Linked DNA regions of Homo sapiens: all the other regions are linked to region 1. The links come from fine-mapping of genetic effects on gene expression. A gene starts in region 1. Each other region holds a variant in brackets. All regions are shown on one strand. Distances are between the middles of the regions.

Region 1 (7,876 bases):
GTAATAAGTTAGGAATAAGGTGTGGTTCTCTTAATTAGAAAAGAGGCTATACGGCAGAAAATAAGTACATCTGTCATAAATTAGGGCTGTGTGGAAATAAATGTAAACACTGGTCTTGTGTCCTTTAGGCCACTTGGATAAAAAAAAAAAATGAGAAGGATCCAGTCCACCTTCAGAAAGGAAAAAATGGCCCTTCCTGTACTAAGGGACAATGTAACCCCTTAGAGCTAGTAATAACCAAGCCCCTTGAACCTCGCTGGGAAAAAGAGGAGCGTGTGACCTTAGGAATTGACGGGGCCGGACTGGATCCTTGAGTAAATATCTTGGTTCGAGGAGAAGTTTACAAACGCTCTCCTGAGCCAGCGTTTCAAACTTTCTATGATGAACTAAATGTGCCAGTACCAGAAATTCCAGGAAAAACATGAAATTTGTTTTTGCAATTAGCCAAGCATGTAGCCCAGTCTCTCAATGTCACTTCACATTATGTATGTGGAGGAACTGTAATGGGAGATCAATGGCCATGGGAAGCCCGAGAATTAGTACCTACAGACCCAGTTCCTGATGAATTCCCGGCTCAAAAGAATCACCCTGATAATTTCTAGGTCCTAAACGCCTCAATTATTGGACAATATTGCATAGCTAGGGAAGGAAAAGAATTTACTCACCCTGTAGGATGACTTAGTTGTCGGAGACAGAAACTGTATAATGGTACCACAAAAACAGTCACTTGGTGGAGTTCAAATCACACAGAGAGAAATCCATTTCATAAATTCCCAAAGTTGCAGATCGTGTGGACCCACCTGGAGTCCCACCAGGACTGGACGGCCCCCACTGGATTATACTGGATATGTAGGCATAGAGCTTATGCCAAATTACCTGACCAGTAGGCAGGTAGTTGTGTTATTGGCACTATTAAACCATCTTTCTTCCTACCGCCCATAAAAACAGGCAAACTCCTGGGCTTCCCTGTCTATGCTTCCCATGAAAAGAGAAGCATAGCTATAAGAAATTGAAAAAATGATAAATGGCCCCCTAAGAGAATCGTGCAATATTATGGGCCTGCTACTTAGGTACAAGACGGCTCATGAGGATACCGGACCCACATGTACATGATCAACCAAATCATATGGTTACAAGCTGTCTTAAAAATAATCACTAATAAAACCGGCAGAGCCTTGACCATTCTGACCCAGCAAGAAACTCAGATGAGAAATGCTATCTATCAAAACAGATTGGCTCTTGACTACTTGCTAGCAGCTGAAGGAGAAGTCTGTAGGAAATTTAACCTTATTAATTGCTGCCTACACATAGATAATCAAGGGCAAGTATTTGAAGACATAGTTAGAGATATGACAAAACTGGCACACGTGCCCATGCAAGTGTGACGGATTTGATCCTGGGGCCATGTTTAGAAAATGGTTCCCAGAGCTAGGAGGATTTAAAACTCTTATAATAAGAGTTATAATAGTAATAGGAACCTACTTACTGCTCCTTTGTTTGCTACCTGTACTTCTTCAAATGATAAAAAGCTTCATCACTACCTTAGTTCACCAAAAGCTTCAGCACAAGTGTACTATATGAATCACTATTGATCTGTCTTGCCAGAAGACATGGGTAGTAAAAATGAAAGTGAGAACTCCCACTATTGAGTGAGACTCTCAAAGGGGGGAATAAGGGAGTAGACCACCCCTCATATTGTCTTATGCCCAATTTCTGCCTCCAAAGAAAAAAAAAGTAAAAACTAAAAGGCAAATATCAAATCCACAAGCAGACAGCCCAGCACCACACCCTGGGCCTGGTAGTTAAAGATTGACCCCTGACATAATCGGTTATGTTATCTATAGATTACAGACATTGTATAGAAAAGCACTGTGAAAATCCCTGTCCTGTTTTGTTCCGATCTAATTACCAGCCCCCAGTCACGTACCCCCTACTTGCTCAATCGATCACGACCCTCTCACGCGCACCCCCTTAGAGTTGTGAGCCCTTAAAAGGGACGGGAATTGCTCACTTGGGGAGCTCGGCTCTTGAGACAGGAGTCTTGCCGATGCCCCTGGTCGAATAAACCCCTTCCTTCTCTAACTCGGTGTCTGAGGAGTTTTGTCTGCGGCTCTTCCTACTACACATCCACATCAGTACTTCTTACAAACAGCATCCTTGAATAGTCAGAGGGGGTGCTCTGGAAGCACAGGAATCCCCCTCTCTGGGGCTCTGGTTTGTTTACACTTACACAATGCCCTGGGGCTGGTGACTTTAGATGTGAGGTGTGGAGGTGAGGAGGATACAAAAGAGCGCAGAAATACACTTGTGGAGGAGGAGGGAGCCGAGCACAGGAGCAACGGCAGAGGAATGAGGACCACCCCTCAGCTGGCCTTTCACACCACTCCCTCTCACCTTGTGTTCGCCCTTGGTCTATGAACACTCTCCCAACTTTTTCCAGAATGTGTCCACCCTCCAAATGCCCGGAACAAGAGCAGGGGGTGATATACTTCCTGGGTTCTTAAAATGTAGTCCGAGTCCCCAAAGTAGGGACATCACCTGGGAGGTTTGCAGAGTCGCAGAAACTCAGACCCCTCTTATCACCAGCTGAATTGGAATTGCATTGGAACAAGACCTCAGATAACTGGAGGGCACGTTAGTGGGACACATTGAGGACTGCAATGTGTAAGGAACAGTAGCCAGTCATGCCCCTTAGCCCCAAAGGGTCTTTGACATTGTGTGCCAAATGCTTAAGGATTTTTGCTCTTTGAAATTTCATGATGCAATAGAAACCATATGAATCGGGAGTCTGACAGAACTTGGAAAAAACCCTGGTTCAGTTCCCCTCGAGCAAAAGATTTAACCTTCAGATCTCAAGGACCAGGGAGATAAAATGGGAATAATGATAATCATGCTGACCTCATACAAATACTGAGGTTGCATGACTTAGGAGCGTCTGGTACACAGAAGGGACTAAACCAATGTCAGGTTCTTCTTACTAATAATGAAAAAAACATGCCTGAGAAAGAATGATGCTTTAAGATTTAAACAACCCATGCATCATAACTTACAGGTTCACTTCTTGGTTTATGCAGAATCTTACACCAGATAAAGGGTAAAACAAACTCTACGATTTCATGAAAAGGTTTGGGTAGGAATTGGGAATATAGAAAATATAAAACTGTGCTGCATTCCATGATTTGATGGCCCTAAACAGAGAGGCACTTGGACCACGTGGAGAACAGTGATGCATTTGGGGTCATTCTGACTGAAACATGTCAGGTGTGTTAGACTTTAAAGCAAACAACAACAAACAAAGCAAAGCTCTGATTGAGAAGAGTTATTTCCTCTTAGCACTCTGGTATAAGTAGGTGGAAACTCATCTTTACAACTGTTTGTCTCACTTCATTCTTTGCAGCTGCTTTACAGATCATGATGGGTTTTGGGGATGATTTGTGTTATATAGTTCACACATAAATCACATAATGTTGGCCAGTCGCAGTGACTCACACTTGTAATCCCAGAACTTTTAGGAGGCCATGGCAGGGGGATCACATGAGGCCAGGAGTTTGGGACCAGCCTGGTCAACACAGCAAGACCCCGTCTCCATAGAAGACAGAAAAGCCACAAGCCACAATTCCCACTGCCAGTGATGCACACCTGTAGTCCCAGTTACTTGGAAGGCTGAGGTGGGGGAGGATCGCTTAAGCCCAATAGTCGAAGGAGCTATGGTGGCACCACTGCACTCTACCCTAGGTGACAGAGTGAGACCCCGTCTCAATTTTAAGAGCAACAACAAAAACACATAATGTCAGAACTGAAACAGCCTCACAAAAGTCCAGAAAAAGGCAAGTTGGGAGTCGTGGGCTAATATCAGCTGGAATTCAGCCGTTCCAGATGCTGCCAGTGGCCCTGGATGGAAGTGAAGTCAGGTGGAGATGCCTTTACTCCTTTCCTAGCTCTCTCTTCCCCAGAAGCAACCTTCCCAGTGCCCCCTTCACCTCTCTGTTTCTGAGGGTGTAGATGAGAGGATTGAGGAGGGGGGTGACAATGTTGTAGAAGAGCATGAGGAACATGCCCTGGTCCTGGGAAGAACTGGCTCCTGGCTGCATGTACATGTAGATGATGTTTCCATAGAAAAGGGAGACCACAGTGAGATGGGAGCCGCAGGTGCCGAAGGCCTTCTGCCTTCCTGATGCTGACCGAATTTGTAACACAGCCCTCACAATGTAGCTGTAAGAGAGCAGGATAAACACCAAGGGGGACAGCACAACACCCACCGCCAGGACAAAGACGGTGCCTTCGATGGCCACAGTGCTGACGCAGGCCATCCGGATCAGGGCGGGCATCTCACGCAGGAAGTGGTCCACCTCGTGGTGCCCACAGCGGGGTAAGCGCAGGGTCACAGGAGACATGGCCAAGGAGTTGGCCACCCCACAGCCCCAGGTCACTGACACCAAGCCCCGGCAGAGCCTGGGGTTCATGATCACCATGTAGTGCAGGGGCTTGCAGATAGCCACACACCGGTCATAGGCCATGACAGCCAGAAGCAGGCACTCCACACCACCCAGACCCAGGAACAGGAAGAGCTGGATGGCACAGCCCATGTAGCTGATGGTCTTGTCACATCCATTAAGGTTGTAGAGCAGCTGGGGGATGGAGCTGGTGGTGAAACTGAGGTCCAGGAAGGAAAGGTGGGCGAGGAAGAAGTACATGGGGGTGTGGAGGTGGGGGTCCAGCCGGGACACCAGGATGATGGTGGTGTTGCCTACGAGGGTCAGGAGGTACGCGATCAGGATGACCACAAAGAGGATCCTCTCCAGATGGGGTCGGTCAGAGAATCCCAGTAGGATGAAATGGGTTTGGGTGCTGCCATTGGTTCCATCCATCTCTACTGCTGCTGAACAGAAATATCAATCCTAATAATAATAATAACAGCTGATATTAAGGGAGAACTTACTAGAAGCTAAGCATTCTTCTATGCTTTTTATATTTATTTTATTCATTCAACCCCAACAGTTATATGGAGTTGCACTATTATTATTAGCTCCCAACTTATAGAAAAGGAAACTGAAACACATGTGTGTTGAGCAAACTGTGATATGTAGGAAGACACAGAGCTGATTCTGAACCCCGGCAATGTAGCTGAGAGTGTGCAATCTAAACCACCAGTAGCACTGCCTCCAAATCCAGTGAAGTGAAGGCAAATCCTGCTGTGGCCAAACCACGAATTTTTCTAGAGACTCCAGTCCCTAGGCTCCTGCCAAAAACCTCAAGGACTCAAAATGGAGCCTCAAAATAATCCATCAATAGTATTTAGGAAATACTCTTTACACACAGAGTACTTTATCTATTACTGGTCTCAAAGACACACCTCATTCATTGGGTTACCATTACTGAGGTAATTTTTAAATTACCTCAGAATTTAATTTAATTTAATTTTAAAATTACCTCAGTAGATAAATAATGTAAGAGACAGGCAAAATACACATAAAATCTCTTTTTTTCTCTCTGTCTTTTAAATGGGCCTGGTATTGAACAAATAGAGTGTATGGGTTTTTCTTCCAAAGTACTATATACTGCTTGAGAGGATAAAAGAGATTGAAAAAACTTTGTAACAGATATTACAACTGTAATGCAAAATTCACGCATATGTACAGAAACCTCTATCACGTTCCAACTCTAATACCACATCACATTCAAAGCAAAGCATATTTGATAAGACAAACCACAAGTCTTACAGATGGATATAGGGAGACTTGGTCCATCCTGGTGTTTGGGTGATGGATGCATTAAAAGCCAAGACTTCGCCACTGTGCAATACATGCAGCTAAAAAGCAGTACCCCCAAATTAATATAAATAGATATAAGCATGTATGTGCAGGTAAAAAGCAGTACTCCCAAATTAATATAAATAGATATAAGTATGTATGTGCAGGTAAAAAGCAGTACTCCCAAATTAATATAAATAGATATAAGTATGTATGTGCAGGTAAAAAGCAGTACTCCCAAATTAATATAAATAGATATAAGCATGTATGTGCAGGTAAAAAGCAGTACTCGCAAATTAATATAAATCCATACGTGGAGGTAACAAAACAGTACTCCCAAACTAAGACAAATAAAAATAAATACATGCGAAGATGGCCGAATAGGAACAGCTCCGGTCTACAGCTCCCAGCGTGAGCGACGCAGAAGACAGGTGATTTCTGCATTTCCATCTGAGGTACCGGGTTCATCTCACTAGGGAGTGCCAGACAGTGGGCGCAGGCCAGTGGGTGCGCGCACCGTGCACAAGCCGAAGCAGGGCGAGGCATTGCCTCACCTGGGAAGCGCAAGGGGTCAGGGAGTTCCCTTTCCCAGTCAAAGAAAGGGGTGACGGACGCACCTGGAAAATCAGGTCACTCCCACCCGAATATTGCGCTTTTCAGACCGGCTTAAAAAACGGCGCACCACGAGACTATATCCCACACCTGGCTCGGAGGGTCCTACGCCCATGCAATCTCGCTGATTGCTAGCACAGCAGTCTGAGATCAAACTGCAAGGCAGCAGCGAGGCTGGGGGAGGGGCGCCCGCCATTGCCCAGGCTTGCTTAGGTAAACAAAGCAGCCTGGAAGCTCGAACTGGGTGGAGCCCACCACAGCTCAAGGAGGCCTGCCTGCCTCTGTAGGCTCCACCTCTGGGGGCAGGGCACAGACAAACAAAAAGACAGCAGTAACCTCTGCAGACTTAAATGTCCCTGTCTGACAGCTTTGAAGAGAGCAGTGGTTCTCCCAGCATGCAGCTGGAGATCTGAGAACGGGCAGACTGCCTCCTCAAGTGGGTCCCTGACCCCTGACCCCCGAGCAGCCTAACTGGGAGGCACCCCCCAGCAGGGGCACACTGACACCTCACACGGCAGGGTATTCCAACAGACCTGCAGCTGAGGGTCCTGTCTGTTAGAAGGAAAACTAACAAACAGAAAGGACATCCACACCAAAAACCCATCTGTACATCACCATCATCAAAGACCAAAAGTAGATAAAACCACAAAGATGGGGAAAAAACAGAACAGAAAAACTGGAAACTCTAAAACGCAGAGCGCCTCTCCTCCTCCAAAGGAACGCAGTTCCTCACCAGCAACAGAACAAAGCTGGATGGAGATTGATTTTGACGAGCTGAGAGAAGAAGGCTTCAGACGATCAAATTACTCTGAGCTACGGGAGGACATTCAAACCAAAGGCAAAGAAGTTGAAAACTTTGAAAAAAATTTAGAAGAATGTATAACTAGAATAACCAATACAGAGAAGTGCTTAAAGGAGCTGAAGGAGCTGAAAACCAAGGCTCGAGAACTACATGAAGAATGCAGAAGCCTCAGGTGCCGATGCGATCAACTGGAAGAAAGGGTATCAGCAATGGAAGATGAAATAAATGAAATGAAGCGAGAAGGGAAGTTTAGAGAAAAAAGAATAAAAAGAAATGAGCAAAGCCTCCAAGAAATATGGGACTATGTGAAAAGACCAAATCTACGTCTGATTGGTGTACCTGAAAGTGATGCGGAGAATGGAATCAAGTTGGAAAACAGTCTGCAGGATATTATCCAGGAGAACTTCCCCAATATAGCAAGGCAGGCCAACGTTCAGATTCAGGAAATACAGAGAACGCCACAAAGATACTCCTTGAGAAGAGCAACTCCAAGACACATAATTGTCAGATTCACCAAAGTTGAAATGAAGGAAAAAATGTTAAGGGCAGCCAGAGAGAAAGGTCGGGTTACCCTCAAAGGGAAGCCCATCAGACTAACAGCGGATCTCTTGGCAGAAACCCTACAAGCCAGAAGAGAGTGGGGGCCAATATTCAACATTCTTAAAGAAAAGAATTTTCAACCCAGAATTTCATATCCAGCCAAACTAAGCTT
Region 2 (7,876 bases), 260 kb after region 1:
CACACTGACGAAACTATGAAAACTACAAAAAAGGCAACAGAACAATCAGCACAAAGAGGTAAGAGAGACAGGCATACAGGCTGCAGAGAAAATGTACAGAGGTAAATACGGACAATGTTGTTATTCTCTGGTTGGGTGATATCATCATATATGACCATGCTATTGTTTAGCTAATTATTAAAAGAAAGCCATGCATGAGCTAAGAATTATATGTCCAATTCAGTATAGCTAAGGTATAGTGAAAGGAAGGGAGGCAGGAAGAGGGTGAGAAAAGAACTGTGTAATGCAGGAAGAAGTTTCCACGTTTAAAAGAGGACTTGAGGCCGGGCATGGTGGTTCATGCCTGTAATCCCAGCACTTTGGGAGGCCGAGGCAGGTGGATGACCTGTGGTCAGGAGTTCAAGACCAGCCTGGCCAACGTGGTGAAATCCCATCTCTACTAAAAATACAAAATTAGCCAGGCGTGCTGGCAGGCGCCTGTAATCCCAGGTACTCGGGAGGCTGAGGCAGGAGAATCGCTTGAACCCTGAAGGCAGAGGTTGCAGTGAGCCGAGATCACGCCATTGCACTCCAGCCTGAGCAACAAGAGCGAAACTCCGTCTCAAAAAAAAAGAAAAAAGAAAAAACAAACAAACAAAAAAAGAGGACTTGAAAAAGACCTAGAGCAAAACCATGTTAATGGAAACCAGCTATGTGGGTCTGACAGTCAATGCTTTTGGTAAACTGTAATCTGTGGCCTATCTACAGGGAAGTGATTCTCCAAAAGAGCATTCAAGCAGCACAGATCACCCCAGCAGTGCTATCTGCTCCCTCCTCCTGAGCTTGCCAAGATTTGGGGGTTTTGCTTAGGCTTCCCCATTCCTCGATCCTAAAGCACTCCAAGCAAATAATGTTGGTACTGTTTATCCCTACATGCAATGTGCCATATGAAATCTTGAGAAAGTTGCCCATGTCAGTCTATTTTGTTTTTTAAAAAGGATGATTATAAAATAAAGTGAACATCTGAATCTCTGGCCAAGTGAACCTCAGCCTCCCTTATAAACCTCAATATGCTCATCTTCATTTACTACGAAGCAATAACTCTTCAAATTCTTAAGCAAATAATACAATATTCATTGCAATCTGGATCTCCCTACATGTCTTTCATTGATCAACTGTCAAGGACGTTAAGGAGATTCTCAAGACTCCTCAAAAGTTGGGGGCGTGTGTGTAAGGGGAGAGATTTGTGACCAATTAAAATGCAGGAAAGTTAAATAACATTTCCAACTTCCTGGTTTGAGGCACAAACACATTTGGTGTTGAAGGAAAAGGATCAGGAAGAAACAAAACTATAATTTATAGCTTAAGTATGGTCATGGGACAGGAAATAATGTGTGGCACTTACAAATTCCATGTCCAAGCCAGGAAAAGCAAAACAGAAACAAGGACCAAGAGGGTGGTAGTTAACCTAGAAAGACTGAGGACTAAGGAAGTCCCTACTGCTGACCGAGCCCATACCAAGCAAAACCAGCAAGTGACAAGCAGCTCTCAACCCCTTTGGCTTCCTGCCTACCCTGAGATATTCTTCCCAATAATTCAAATCTAAAAGGTTTTGAGCAGCATGGGAATTAAAAAAGAAAAGAAAAACCCACCTCTGTGAAAGAGTGGCTTATATACAGGTGATCGTTTTGGATGGCACACCTTAGCATTACTAAGTTAATGCATCAGAAAGGTCGCAAACCCATCCTCTGTAAATCGGGACAGAACTGTGCCCTCTACTTGTTTTCTGCCCGAGCTTCATTCTTGACTTCTGAAGTTAATTTTAATGGTTTAAGCCCTTCCTCTCTGTTTCCAAGAGTTTTGTTTAACTTTCTTTTATCCCCCACTCACACCCTGACAGATTATGGTATGAAATAACAAAAAGTCCATCGACTTTGAAATCAGATAGACCTGGGTTTAAATCAGATAGACCTGATGCTTCATCTCTGAATCTTATCTGTAAGCTTCTGCAAAATGGACTAGTAATAACTACTCCTGAAGTTCTTCTGAGTGTTAAATGAGATAATGTATGGAAACATATCATGTCTGTTGTAGTAGATATGCTACAGTGACACAGCACACCTACTCCAGGACAAATCATTCATGCCTCGGATAGTATCTGGAACAGTTAGCTACTTAACTGCAATCATCTTCTCAATACATTTACCAAAATACAGAAAAGTGCCATGCATCAGTTACTTGTGAAAATTCTATCTCCAGTCCCGATCTCTCTCCCTTGAGTTAGAGCCCTGGATTTGTGGCTACTTCGTGAATATTACTATCTACTAGTGACTTTAGAATTGGCTAGAATTCATTTTATGCCATTGCTATTAGAAATAGGAAAGCAGACCTCAACACATGAATTCATTTGGCCTTTGTTATATATACATAGACAGGATAGGAAGTAGGACTTAGGTCACCCACCTCTCTATTTCCTGTATTTCTCTAAGTGCTTCTTGATGTCTCTCCACCAGCTGGACCACATAGAAAAGCAAATTTATCACCACACTTCCTCCAAAATTAGCTCCCCCTCTGGACTTATTTCTGTTAATTGAACCTTAATTTTCCTGGTCTGATTCAGGACTTGCAATGTCCTTGGCAAGATTTTCTGCCTTCTTCTACACCCACCCACCAGTCCCTGCATCCATTTGTTACCAAACTACCATAATTTCGTCTTTCACAAAGTCTCCTGTCTATCCTTTCCTTTTAGTTTCACCTTGACAGCACACTCTAGAACCTCATTACCTCACACCAGGACAAAGGGGTCCTACCTAGACGCCCTTCCACCTGCCCATCTAATCCCAAACACTCTGTGCACACTGCCACTTTCACCATCCCATATCCACGCTTCGCAGAGACACCTGCAAAAACACTTGCAATGCAAGACTCAGCCACAACTGAGCCTCAGAGTGTGACATCTAGGGGACACCTTGACAAAGAACCACAGGAGAAACCAAAGAGGTGGGTAAAGAACCAGGAGAGAAGACTCCAGAGAAAGGTCAAGACCCGGGGGCAGGCACCAAAAAAAGAGATGAGAACGGCAAACTTTGCCCTTTCGCAGCCCAAAGTCCTCCAAGTAAATGTCAGAAGCCAGCAAATGCCTTGGGGAGCTGATACGGAGCCCTGACTCATCTCTGGAGGAGCAGAAGAGGTTAATCAGAAATCTGTGCAAGTAGAACAAGGGGTCGGAAGACTGATCTAGCTACACGGGAGGCCAAGGTGACGCGGAGGGACTCACTCACAGATGCTGAGGGCTCAGCAGGGTCCGCACGGGGTCTAAGGAACGCAGCACCGAAGCCATTCTGCGTTGCTCAAGCACTCCGCGGACACGCGCTCGGCTCTCACATCCTGGAGATGTTCGTTATCCCGGGAAGATGTTTATCAGAAGAGAATTTCAAACAGAATAAGTAACTTTTTAGTAAATGTCCTCAATTAAACTCCCGCCTTAAGGCAACTGTTGAATTTTCCCCAATGCTGGAGGATACATGTGATGACATGAAATGTTCCTATTTTCCAAAGTTTTCATCTACCAAGTCGTTCATGTACGGTTTAGCACCGTTAATATAAGTTCACTCCTCAAAGTAATAGGTTCTGTGACAGAAGATTCTTGGTCCTAAATTTCTGATTCAAAAATGGGAAAAAATTCCAAGATATAAAAGCTGTTCACCAGTATTCC[G/A]GTTAAATGTATAACATCATAGAACAATATGAGTGATCATTGAGTCACCTTTCCCAGATGTCTCACAGAAAACCTCCTCTGACTATAATGCCCATGGAAAATCATCTTAATTCCAGAAAGCGGGGGCTGACGGGACACTGTTGAGAGGGTGAGTCACGGAAAATCACGAATGGTGGCAGGCGCCCCGCCTCAGTTCCCCTCGGGAGAGGGCACCCGCCAGTGCGGACCGCCAAGGGGCGTCCAGGACAAGGGCGGTTGGGCTCCGCGGCCCCAGCGTCCGCCCAGCGCGCCCTCCCGCGCGGCCTCGTCCCAGCCTGGCCCAGGTTCCGAGTCCCCAGTCGCGGGCGTCGTGAGGCTCGAGCGAACCCCCAACAACCGCGCCTCGCCAGGGCCACCCCGCCGCTCTGCGAGGTTCCCGGCGGCCCAAGGGCGGGATCCTCAGGACGCAGGCGCGCGCCTCTGCCGCAGCCGGGGGAGGAGCGCGGCGGCAGCAGCGACCAGTAACCGTTAGTGGAGCAGCCCCGCCCCCACGGCCGCCAGGCCCGCTCCTCCCACTCCGCCTCCTGAGCTGGAAGCTGAGAGAACCCAGGGCCCGGGCTCCAACTTCCAAGCCTGTCGCAGAGCCTGGCAAGCTCCCTTCGGGGAAGACTAGACCGACGTGCCTTAACTATTAAGTTGAAAAAGCGAAGTAGTATAAAAAGGAGATAGAGTAATAAGTGCCAAAATACACTCTGATGCACTCGTCCCTTTTTCGTCTGTCTTCCAACTATTGTCATTTTTCCAGTCAGTTAATTTCTCCTCTGCTTTTCCTTCATTTTCCTGAGTTGTTCTTCGCTCTCTGCCTCTGCTTTTCCTTCATTTTCCTGAGTTGTTCTTCGCTCTCTGCCCCTCTCCCTCCTCCACTTTTCCCCTATGGCAGTGAATCAACTGTGTGACCCCAGCTGTCACAACTGCTGCTGAGAGGGTGTGGATAAGTCACAGCTCCCAGCTCACTTTCTCACCTGTACAGCTGGACTGACCACACCCTCCTCCCGGGGTTATTGTGGGGTGGAGCAAGTCACCGATCTGGGAGGTGCTCATTTATTCTTATCATAAAATGGGGATCCCCCGCTATGGGCTGGGCACTGGTATCAGGACCCAGGAGCACAGTTCCTGGGCTCAGGCATCGCATAACCTCATGGGAACAGCAACCAGAGAAGAATTTCATGAGGATGAGCTCCATGCACTATCCTCACTCCAGGCCTCTTCCTTTTCCTTCGCTTTTACTTTGCATCTTAATGCTCAAGGCTAATGCCAGAAAAAAAGGTGAAGTACGCAAAGGGTGTCTAGAGCATCTCAAACTTCTTTATCTCAACTTTACCTCCCTCTCGTGATGGGCTCTGCTCTTTTCTCCACCCCATCCCCAATTCTGTGAAGTTCAGCAAATGCTAACTGCACAGTCCTTGTGCAGGCACTCTACCAGGTGCTGAGAAATCAAATAGCATAATTTCAATATAAAAGTGAGAGTACTGAAATCAAGGGAACATATCTAAGTCATCTGTTGCTGCCAAATGCCCAGATACTGTTTTCCATCAACAGAACTTTCCTGGGCCTCCACCATGGCTTTATGCCCCAGCAGGACAGAGCTGCCCTCCTGGTTGATTTTACATTTCTAATGAAATCTTTTTTTTTTCTTTTCTGTCCCCATTGTTTATATTCCCAAGCACACTGCAGAGCTCAGTTCCCAGCCAGATCAAGCTGCCACGTGACCTTGTTGGTTCTTCTTCCCGCCTGGGCTCTGCTCCAGTTCCTCAACATCCTTCCTGCTCATGGGGAAGGTCTCACCCCAAAGTGGCCCTGGGATTCCGTCTTGCATATTTTCATATGTGTGTGTGTGTGTGTGTGTGTGTGTGTGTGTGTTTGCAAACTAAACTGATTCACTCCCACCTCTTTAGACCTCCTTTAGAAAGGAGAACGCAGACTGGGTGGCTGTGAGCAGCACTTACCATTCTCCATGGCCTTGGTAGGGCCCCTTGAGCCCTGCTTGCTTCTTCACACAGAAAGGAAACTAAAGAGCTTTCTTGGCAATCAGTAACTCTCCCAAGCATATTTGTGTTTTCACACAGGATTTTAATTTCTACCACTGTAGGAGGCACTAGGTTCATGTTCTGGAAAAGTTAGTCCCCATGCTGCCTCTGAAATTGTATCCACAAAGACAGTTGTTCATTTTAAGTGGCAATTAGGATGGTGAGGAATTCAAAACCATGCCTAACAATAAGAACAGTAATAATAATAACCCCAGCCATTAATTGAGCTTTTAGTAGGAATCAAACATTCTTATTTAATCTCAGTGCTTTATAAACACTATCTTATTGAATCTTCACTGACATCCTATGAGACATTTTTATTCCTGTTTCACAGGGGTCTGTTGGGTGCACAGGAATCATGTCTTTCAAAGAGCACCAAGTGCAGAGGCCATGGCAAGGCCCCTGGACTCAAGTGGAAAGAAGAGGAGCAAACGTGTTCCCAAGCCCATGTTGAGACATCACCATTCCAAGGACACCCAGAAATAGCTGAGGAGGAATTTAAGGAGACAAGAGAAACATGGGATTAAGATCTTGTCAAGCAAGTGAAGATTTGGAGACATGGAGCTATGCATGTGAATATGCCTGGACATTCATGAACTTATTTACACTCATGAACTCCTGAAACCTAGGAGAGGTTGAAAAATTGCAAATCTACTTGCTCCTTCTCCGCACCCAGGCTCTACTTCTAAGTTATTGCCAACTGCTCATGGCTGAAAGCCCACATCCACTTCCGTCCTTCATCAGCCACATCAGGCTGTTAGTTTTCTTGGCCCTCCAACTGCCCACCTACTCTTCCCTGCCTGGGTTGGTTTTCAGACACTTGGACTTCACTGATCTGCTGTTCTTCTGAACAATGGACTCTGCTCTCCCATCTGAATTTTTGATACTCCCATTGTGTTATCATCAAAAATATATATTTGGGCCAGATGCAGTGGCTCACACCTGTAATTGTAACAGTTTGGGAAGCTGATGCTGGAGGAACCCTTGATGCCAGGAATTTAAGACCAGGCTGGACAACAAAGGGAGACCCCATCTCTACAAAAAATGAAAAAAAAAATTACCCGGGTATGAGTGCATGCACCTTAGTCCCAGCTACTTGGGAGGCTGAAGCAGGAGGATCGCTTGAGCTCTGACATGACCCTGTCTCAAAAGTTAGGGTCAAAATGTTTATCTATTTGGTCTTTGCCCTTGATTCCTGGCAAAAAGGCACCTGAAATTCTTGGAATTTCCTGAGTGATAGGAGTTTCTTCCATTATTCATAAACAGCCCCTTTTGATCTTACCTGAGTTAATGCTAAGAGGTGACTCTAGATGGCCCTTACATAGCTTCTAGATGGGTGCTGGTGGCCAGGGCAACCGACCACATGAATAGAGGGCTGAACTCTCAGCCCTACCCCCTGATCTGCAGGGAGGGGACAAGGGCTGGAGATTGAGTCCAATCACCACCAATTGCCATCAATCATGCCTATGTAATGAAACTTCAGTAAAACTCCTGAAACAGCGAGGCTGAGCTTCCAGGATGGTGAATACATTGAGGTGCTAGTGCCCCCAGAGAAGACAGGGAACCTCCATCCCCACCCCACCCCTTACCCTGTACATCTCTTCCATTTGGCTGCTCTTAAACTGTATCCTTTAAGATAAACTGTGACTGTAAGTAAAGCGCTTTCCTGAGGAATGAGCCATTCTAGAAAATTCTCAAACCTGGGGACAGGAGTGATGGAGTCATAGTTTGAAACAAACTACCAACCCTCACATTTTTAGTGAGCTAGGCAGAAGTGTAAATAGCCTGAGGACCCCATTTCTGGCCTGCATATGAAGTGGAGGTGGTCTTGGGGAACTGAGCCCTTAACCCCTGGGGTCAGCGCTAACTCCGGCTAGTGTCAGAACTGGACAGAATTGTTGGACACTGAGCTGGAATAAGAGAATTAGGGTACTGGTTATTGTTGGAATAATAACACCTATAATAATCAGGCTGTTAATATTTATCTTAAATAGATCCAACATTCCGCTGCTGCCAGGTGTTGAGGAAATGCACACACCCTCATGAGAGAGACACAAACCATCACAGAGCATCAGGTAAGCCCCTCCCACACCCTCCCATGCCAGCCAGAGCCACC
Region 3 (7,876 bases), 23 kb after region 1:
TCCTGTCTCCACCTCCAGAATAGCTGGGATTACAGGCTCCTGCCACCATGCCCAGCTAATTTTTCTATTTTTTTTTTTTTTTTAGTAGAGACAGGGTTTCACCATGTTGGCCAGGCTGGTCTTGAACTCCTGAGCTTGTGATCCACCCGCCTCAGCCTCCCAAAGTGCTGGGATTACAGGCGTGAGCCACTGCACCCAGCCTTAAGGTCTTATAACTAGTAAATATCTGCATTAAAGAACGAGTTGAATGAAAATTCTGATAAATTCCTACTTAAAGTGTATCCAAAGAAAACGGAAAAAGTCTAGGAGTTAGTGATATTAGATTCAGAAGAATGAGCTTTGTAATTCTTAAAAATTAGTCTCAGAATAGAAAGGATTTTAAAAGTAATTGAGTAAAGTCATAGGAAATGTGACCATATAAAGGAATGGCTCTAAATGTATTAATCCAGAAGGAAGCAACAGGTTAAACAGTAAGAGGTAAGAAACAAAAAATAAGGAACAAGAGAGAGAGAGTGACAGGGAGAGAGAGACAGAGCGGGGAAGGAGAGAATGAGAAGGAAAATCAGGAAAACGAGGAGAAACAGAATTAAGGAGGTGATACTGGAATAGTATCAGACCATTCTGAATCAATTTAAGAATTGCCATGTCTAATTCTTATATGGAAGATTTGAAATACAAGGATATTGAAAGGAATAACAAATTATAATGAATGCATAGAAATCCTTATGTAATCCAAGGTCATTAATTTGAAGGAAGACATCAAGAAAATGTGATCTAGAAATAGAGGTTGAGATTGCTCCATTTACAAAATTATTATGCTCTATAATCTTCCCATATGCAAATATTTCATATTCCCTCTTTTGTCCCATGGACATATTTCACAGCAACAACGAATCAAGTGCTGACCTAAATGGGGTATCTGTTAAAACTTAGTATATTGATATCCTTCACCCCACTCCAGGAACGTTCGCTACGCTAGGACTGCATCTTGGGAACAGAATTTTAGAGATGATCATCTCTTACATCAGAAGCAGGATCTAAATGATCCCTGGATGCCCAATTTCCTGACCCTGCTATTGTTGTGGGTGGCAAGATAAGAGGAGTTGCATCACAGATGAAAAAGTAAGGCCGAAGAAGACCAGAGAAGAGTTGGTTGAATGTGTAGATATAAGATCCATCTGTGACATTGTAGAATGAAATTTCACCGGCTTCATAGTCCAAGAAAATCCCAATGCAGCGAGGACTTTCCAGTTGGAGAAGAGGCACTGATGGGGAGGCAAGGACCATGTACTCATTCCCTTTCAGCAGCCACAGGGCCCAGACCCCATTCTCAGGAGATGGCGTGGTTTCCCCCTTTCTTGGCAGTGTGTCTTGACAGACCCCTAAACCCCACTCTGCTCCTTCTCCCACCAGAACCTCCCAGTAATGCCTCCCTGATGAGAAGCTCTGCAAACCCAGGATGCAGGGCCATGTGTCAAATCGCTCAGGGTTGTTGGGGACATCCCTCCATGGTTCTCCATCCTGCACACTGCGCAGGTCGGCGGTCAAGAGCAGACTCGGGTGCGCCGTGGCGGGATCCAGCTTTACATCCACTGCGGAAAGAATGTGGTGGACCAGGTGAAAGGAAAGAAAGGACTGGTAGAAACTTAGGAAACCACTGAAAAGAATAGTCCCACAGTTCCTCACTTTTCTCTCTCTATTAACTCCTAGAGAAAACAAATCAGTATTTCACCTTACAGGTGAAATCTTCTTTATTACTTTATTATTCTTATTCTTTATAACTTTCTGGTATATTCCACTGTTACCTCTGCGTAACCCAGAACTCTTTAACTTTCCCAAAAAAAAACAACTATTGATGACGACAAACCAAGTGAATTATCATTTAGTTTCCTTTCATTTACATCTAAAGCATTTGTGTGTGTGTGTGTGCGTGAGAGAGAGAGAGAGAGACAGAGAGACGGGGTCTTGCTATGTTGCCCAGGCTGGAGTGCAGAGCTATTCATGGGCATAGCC[G/A]TGGTACACTACAGCCTCAAACTCCTGGACTCAAGCAATCCTCCCGTGTCTGCCTCCCCAGCAGCTGGGACTACAGGTGCACACCACCATGTCTGGCTTACATCCAAAGCATTTGAGTGCACTTAGGAGGATCTTCTGCATTTAACATAAAATTTATAAACCCCTTAGGAATTTTTTTCTTAAAAATCTATAGAATTTTATTAATATTAAATCCACTACTTCCAAAGTTATATTACTGTGGTAGGCGGAATTCTAAGATGGACCCCATGACCTTCACACCCTGGTGTTAGCCTCATGAGTATGTTACACTATATGACAAGAGAGAGATTATCAAGGTGCGTCTAATCAAATCCCACAAGTCCTGTAAAATCAGAAAGTTTTCTCTGGCTATTGGGTTGGTGGCAGCAGGAAAGGTCAATAAGATGTGGATTTGATATCTCTTTGCTGGCTTTGAAAATGGAAAGGTCACATGAAGAGACAAACGAGTGACCTCTAGAGCTGAGAGTGATCTCCAGAGCTGAGAATAGCCCCCAACCAACAGCCAGCAAGAAAACAGGAATCTCAGTACCGCATTTGCACAGAATTGTATTATGCCAACAACCTGAATAAGGTTGGAGGTAAGGTTCTTCCCCCGACCTACACAGAAGCCTGGCCTGGCCTGGCCAACACCCATATTTGGGCCTTGAGAAAACCTAAGCAGAGGAGCCAGCTGATCCCACTTGGATGTCTGGTCTTCAGAACCATGAGCTACTAAATGGTATGGCTTTAAGCACATAAGCTTGTAGTTATGCGTTATATAACAATAAAAAATACTGATACTCTGAAGTCCCAGTGAGATTGATGAGACATTTGACCCATATACATAATAAATAAATACATCTAGATATGAAACCTCAGTGAAGGGGGGATGTAAAATATTCAGTGCATTTCCTTATTAGCATTGCTTATAAGTAGTAAGTTAATAAATAATATGGTTTGGATGTGTATCGCCTCCCGGTCTCATGTTGAAATGTGATTCCCAATGTTGAAGGTGGGGCCTAGTGGGGGGTGCTGGATCATGGGTGCAGATCCCCCATGAATGACTTAGTGCCATCCCACTGGTGATAAGTGAGTTCTTTATCCGTTCATGCAAGAGCTGGTCGTTTAAGAGGAACCTGGGGCCTCCCCACTTCACTGCTTCCCTCTTGCCATGTGATACGCTGGCTCCTCCTTTGCTTTCCACCATGACTGTAGGTGTCCTGAGGCCTCACCAGAAACAGGTGCCAGCACCATGACTCCTGTACAGCCTACAGAACCATGAGCCAAAATAAAGCATATTTCCTTATATTAATAAATTACCCAGCCTCAGGTATTTCTTTATAGCAATGCAAAATCAGACTAACATGTTAATATAGTTTGATTTTTAATATCAGAACAAATACTGTTTCTACTGCTACTGCTACTGCTACTGCTACTACCACTACCACTATACTTATTTGCCTTTAAACACTTACAGTGAACTACTTTTTTTTTTGAAACGGAGTCTCGCTCTGTTGCCCAGTCTGGAGTGCAGTGGTGCAATCACAGCTCACTGCAGCCTCCACCTCTCAGACTCAAGCCATCCCCTGACCTCAGCCCTCTGAGTAGCTGGGAAGGCACACACCACCATGCCCAGCTAGTTTTCTGTATTTTTTTGTAGAGAAGGGGTTTTGCCATGTTGCCCAGGCTGGTCTCGAACTCCTGGGTTCAAGCAATCCATCCGCCTCAGCCTCCCAAAATGTTGGGATTACAGGCGTGAGCTGCCACGCCCGGTCTAGTGAATTTTTATTGATACCCAACCTGAGTGGTCACGTAACTGCGCATTGCATTATTTTTATTATGTAACCACCCTGAGGGTCACCATTGTCATCCCTACATTACACAAGAGTAGATTCAGAGTCAAAGAGTTTATGTGGTCTTCCCAAACTCTAGAGGTAAATAACAGAGATTGAAAGGTAGGTCTCCATGGATTGTGCATTTAACACAATCTAACAGGTCATGTATTCCCAAGCCATTCCTCTTCCGGCACAGTGGTCTGCTTCATTTCTAACAAAAGAGATCTGTGAAATGGCTTTTGATATGGTCTGTATCCCATTCCTCTCCCTACCCCTTCTCTCCTAAACTCAATTCTTCATCATGATGTGACCATACCCCAACCAAACTGCGCATGTCCATCTTCCCAGGGACCTCCGTGTTGATGAATGGTTACTTGTCAGTTTGTCTTTTTTTTAAGATGGAGTTTTGCTCTTGTTGCCCAGGCTGGAGTTCAATGGCATGATCTTGGCTTACTGCAACCCCCATCTCCCGGGTTCAAGTGATTCTCCTGCCTCAGCCTCCCGAGTAGCTGGGATTACAGGCATGCACCACCACGCCTGGCTAATTTTGTATTTTTAGTAGAGACAAGGTTTCCTCAGGTTGATCAGGCTGGTCTCGAACTCCTGACCTCAGGTGATCTGCCCGCCTCGGCCTCCCAAAGTGCAGGGATTTACAGGCGTGAGCCACCGCGCCCGGCCCAGAGTTCATCTTCAATGATTTTTCTGTATCTCTCAACACTGAGAATCTACTTGTGCTGGAAAATCTCCCTTTTCCAAAGGTAACACTCATCCATGTTTCCCTTCCCTCACTGCTCACTACTCCTTGATCCTCTTTGCTGTTCTCTTCTCCTCCACCACCACCACTGGAGAAACCTATAGTCCCAAGACTTGGACTTCTTCTCTCTCTCTCACCTCACTCCCTATCTACCCGGGTGCTGGCTGGTTCATTGCTTTGATAAAATTCCATTCATATGCTGACTGATTCCCAATGCATGTGCTTAGCTTTGAACTTTACCCTGAAACTCCCTATTGTACATTCATCTGCCCACTTGATAGCAACATTTGAATATTTAGCACTCATCGCAACATCCACATATCCAAAACCCTGTGCCCTTCTTCTGCTTCAACTGTCGCTTTCCTCATCAATATAAGTGGCAATCACATTTTGCCAGTTCGCAAGATCCAAAACCTTGGAATCATTCATGGCTCTTCCTGTTTATAGCACATCATATATAATCCAACAGCAAATCTTAACAGCTCTGCCTTCAGTATATAACAAAAATCTGTCCATCTTGCGGCACCTTCCGTAATAACATCTATTCCAACACATAATCATCTCTCATCAAATTACTGCAAAGACCCTTAACTGCTTTTCCCATGTCAATCTTCTCCTCTCTGTAATTTACTTACAAGAAAGCATATAGAGTGATCCTCATAAAACATTAGTCCAATCAAACTATTTTTCTAGGTACAACTTTCAACTATGTCCTATTTCGCTCAGGGATAAAGTATCATGCTCAGCATGGCCTGCCTATCTAGCCCTTTCTTGGTCTCTCCGACCCTCCTGTCATTTACTCTGCCACAGAGTCCTCACACTGACATCCTCACAGCTCCTGGAACACACCTGCCATCCTCCACGTCAGGCCTTGGCGCTCATTTCTGCTGCCTGAATGCTTTCTTCCAGATCATATATTTGCTGGGTTATCCCCTGCAGGGCGGGGTCTTTCCTGGTCACCTTATTCAAAACTAGAACTTCTCATTACCCTTTGCATACTCTTTTTGATTTTCTTCAATATTCTGTGTCAGCCACTTACAGCCTGTGTATTTTGGTGAAGTACATATCTGCAACACAAAGCTACGGATTGTAGAGTATTTTGTTGTTGTTGTTGAATGATATATTCCAATGTTTAAAAGAATGGGTGAGATAAAATTAATCACACATTTTGAATGATTTCATTCCATAAAAACAAATATGGATATGAGGTTGCTGAGTCTGAGGGTGCCATGACGATTTTAATCAAGTTGGGCATTTAGCATACATTCATCTACCCAGGAGAACGTGGGTACTATGCTGCAGAGATGGGTTTTCTCATTAAGGGACTTTACACTCTTTCCCTCTAAGTAGTGAAGTCACTATTTAGACATAGTTTTCATTACTTGGGATAAATTAGATTTTAAAATGAAATTGTAAACAATACTGAATCTATACTGTTTTAAAGAATAATACAATCAGACTAAACACACTAATTTTTTGTGACACTGCTTATTCCTACATGAAAATAACTGACAATATTTTTGGCTTTATTGACTCACTAATTCAAGCAACTCATCAAATTCTCAGCCAATAAATTAAACCAAACTTCTTGCTAATTGATAACTTTGCAGTGCTTTCATATTGATTACTTTTAGGAGGTGGGGTGCTTTCAAATGTTTCATTTTGTCCTCCAAGCAATTTATTTTTAGCATTTTATAAGCAAGGAAATGTAAATTTACTGGAAGTAACGTTACTCATATCAGCTAATAAGAGATGACCTACAGTTTTAAGCCCATAGTCTAACCAAATGTAGACTCTATGGGTGGCCGTGACTCTGATACTGCTCATGAATATACTAATCCTCGTTCTTCTGGGCGTGGTGGTGCAGGCTCTATGGGTGGCCGTGACTCTGATACGGCTCATGAATATACTAATCCTCGTTCTTCTGGGCGTGGTGGTGCAGGCTCTATGGGTGGCCGTGACTCTGATACGGCTCATGAATATACTAATCCTCGTTCTTCTGGGCGTGGTGGTGCAGGCTCTATGGGTGGCCATGACTCTGATACTGCTCATGAATATACTAATCCTCGTTCTTCTGGGCGTGGTGGTGCAGGCTCTACGGGTGGCCGTGACTCTGATACTGCTCATGAATATACTAATCCTCGTTCTTCTGGGCGTGGTGGTGCAGGCTCTACGGGTGGCCGTGACTCTGATACTGCTCATGAATATACTAATCCTCGTTCTTCTGGGCGTGGTGGTGCAGGCTCTATGGGTGGCCGTGACTCTGATACTGCTCATGAATATACTAATCCTCGTTCTTCTGGGCGTGGTGGTGCAGGCTCTATGGGTGGCCGTGACTCTGATACTGCTCATGAATATACTAATCCTCGTTCTTCTGGGTGTGGTGGTGCAGGCTCTATGGGTGGCCGTGACTCTGATACTGCTCATGAATATACTAATCCTCGTTCTTCTGGGCGTGGTGGTGCAGGCTCTATGGGTGGCCGTGACTCTGATACTGCTCATGAATATACTAATCCTCGTTCTTCTGGGCATGGTGGTGCAGGCTCTATGGGTGGCCGTGACTCTGATACTGCTCATGAATATACCAATCCTAATTTTTCTGGGCATGGTGCACTCTCCCACGGAAGGAGACCAGGGAATTTTACCCTAAAATATGGCACCCTGGTATGCCCATTATTTTAAATTAAAGGCCCTTGGAGACCATCACACACTGTAAGAAGCTTTATTCTAACACTCATTTATCTGCCTGAAGTCCCTGCATTTTAATTAATTTAGCTCATATTGCAGGAAGACAGACAAGTCTATCAATACACCTGGACAGACTTTAGTCACAAACCACTGTCTACTTTTCAACACTTTGTCCCAAGCCACTGTATGCACTCCAAGCCCAATGAATCCTCCAAAAAATCATTTACTATCTCCCTAAAATCATCCACACCTCCCCATCTCCCTTTCCTCCAATAAAGAAAGGTATATAAGCATCTGTATCCCACTGCGTTATTGGGTCATTACTCTCCTGCGATTCCACTGTGCTATGAATGTTAGACTTTTTCTATGCCTTTGTTCCTATTTGTCTTTGGTCAGTTGATTTTCAGCAAACATTCATAGGGAAAGGGGAAAGTTTTCCCTTGCCCCCTACACTGTCTCCTTGATAGTTTGACTTAGCCATGAAATCTCAGGAAGGCCAGATGCTCTAATTCAGCATGGGTACCTTTAAGAGGAGTGCATGAGTCACCATGCCTATGATACTGTGAAG

Alleles and levels. Alleles are on the strand shown, and positions count from the first base shown. SD is a standard deviation of normalised expression in the study named. Not every link is listed here.
For the expression in subcutaneous fat of the gene that starts at base 4,868 in region 1, allele G in region 2 goes with a lower level than allele A (moderate effect, 0.67 SD a copy in GTEx).

Evidence for each region.
Region 2: its variant is fine-mapped to the expression of OR2W3 in subcutaneous fat (GTEx, PIP 0.96).
Region 3: its variant is fine-mapped to the expression of OR2W3 in whole blood (TOPMed, PIP above 0.99).

What each region holds. Positions count from the first base shown.
Region 1 is chr1:247,892,579-247,900,454 of GRCh38, reverse strand. OR2W3 (olfactory receptor family 2 subfamily W member 3) reads right to left here and starts at 4,868. Exons shown (of 1, transcript NM_001001957.2): 1 at 3,924-4,868. The coding sequence starts at 4,868. The coding sequence ends at 3,924.
Region 2 is chr1:247,635,814-247,643,689 of GRCh38, reverse strand. LOC102724446 (a long non-coding RNA gene) reads left to right here and starts at 2,836. Exons shown (of 3, transcript NR_188589.1): 1 at 2,836-2,979; 2 at 7,755-7,835. RefSeq lists a silencer at 3,827-4,025. The variant G/A (reference allele first, on the strand shown) is at 3,695.
Region 3 is chr1:247,869,616-247,877,491 of GRCh38, reverse strand. TRIM58 (tripartite motif containing 58) reads right to left here. Exons shown (of 6, transcript NM_015431.4): 6 at 1-1,592. The coding sequence ends at 1,003. Among named protein-coding and RNA genes, the nearest start is that of TRIM58, 16 kb to the right of the region's middle. The variant G/A (reference allele first, on the strand shown) is at 2,014.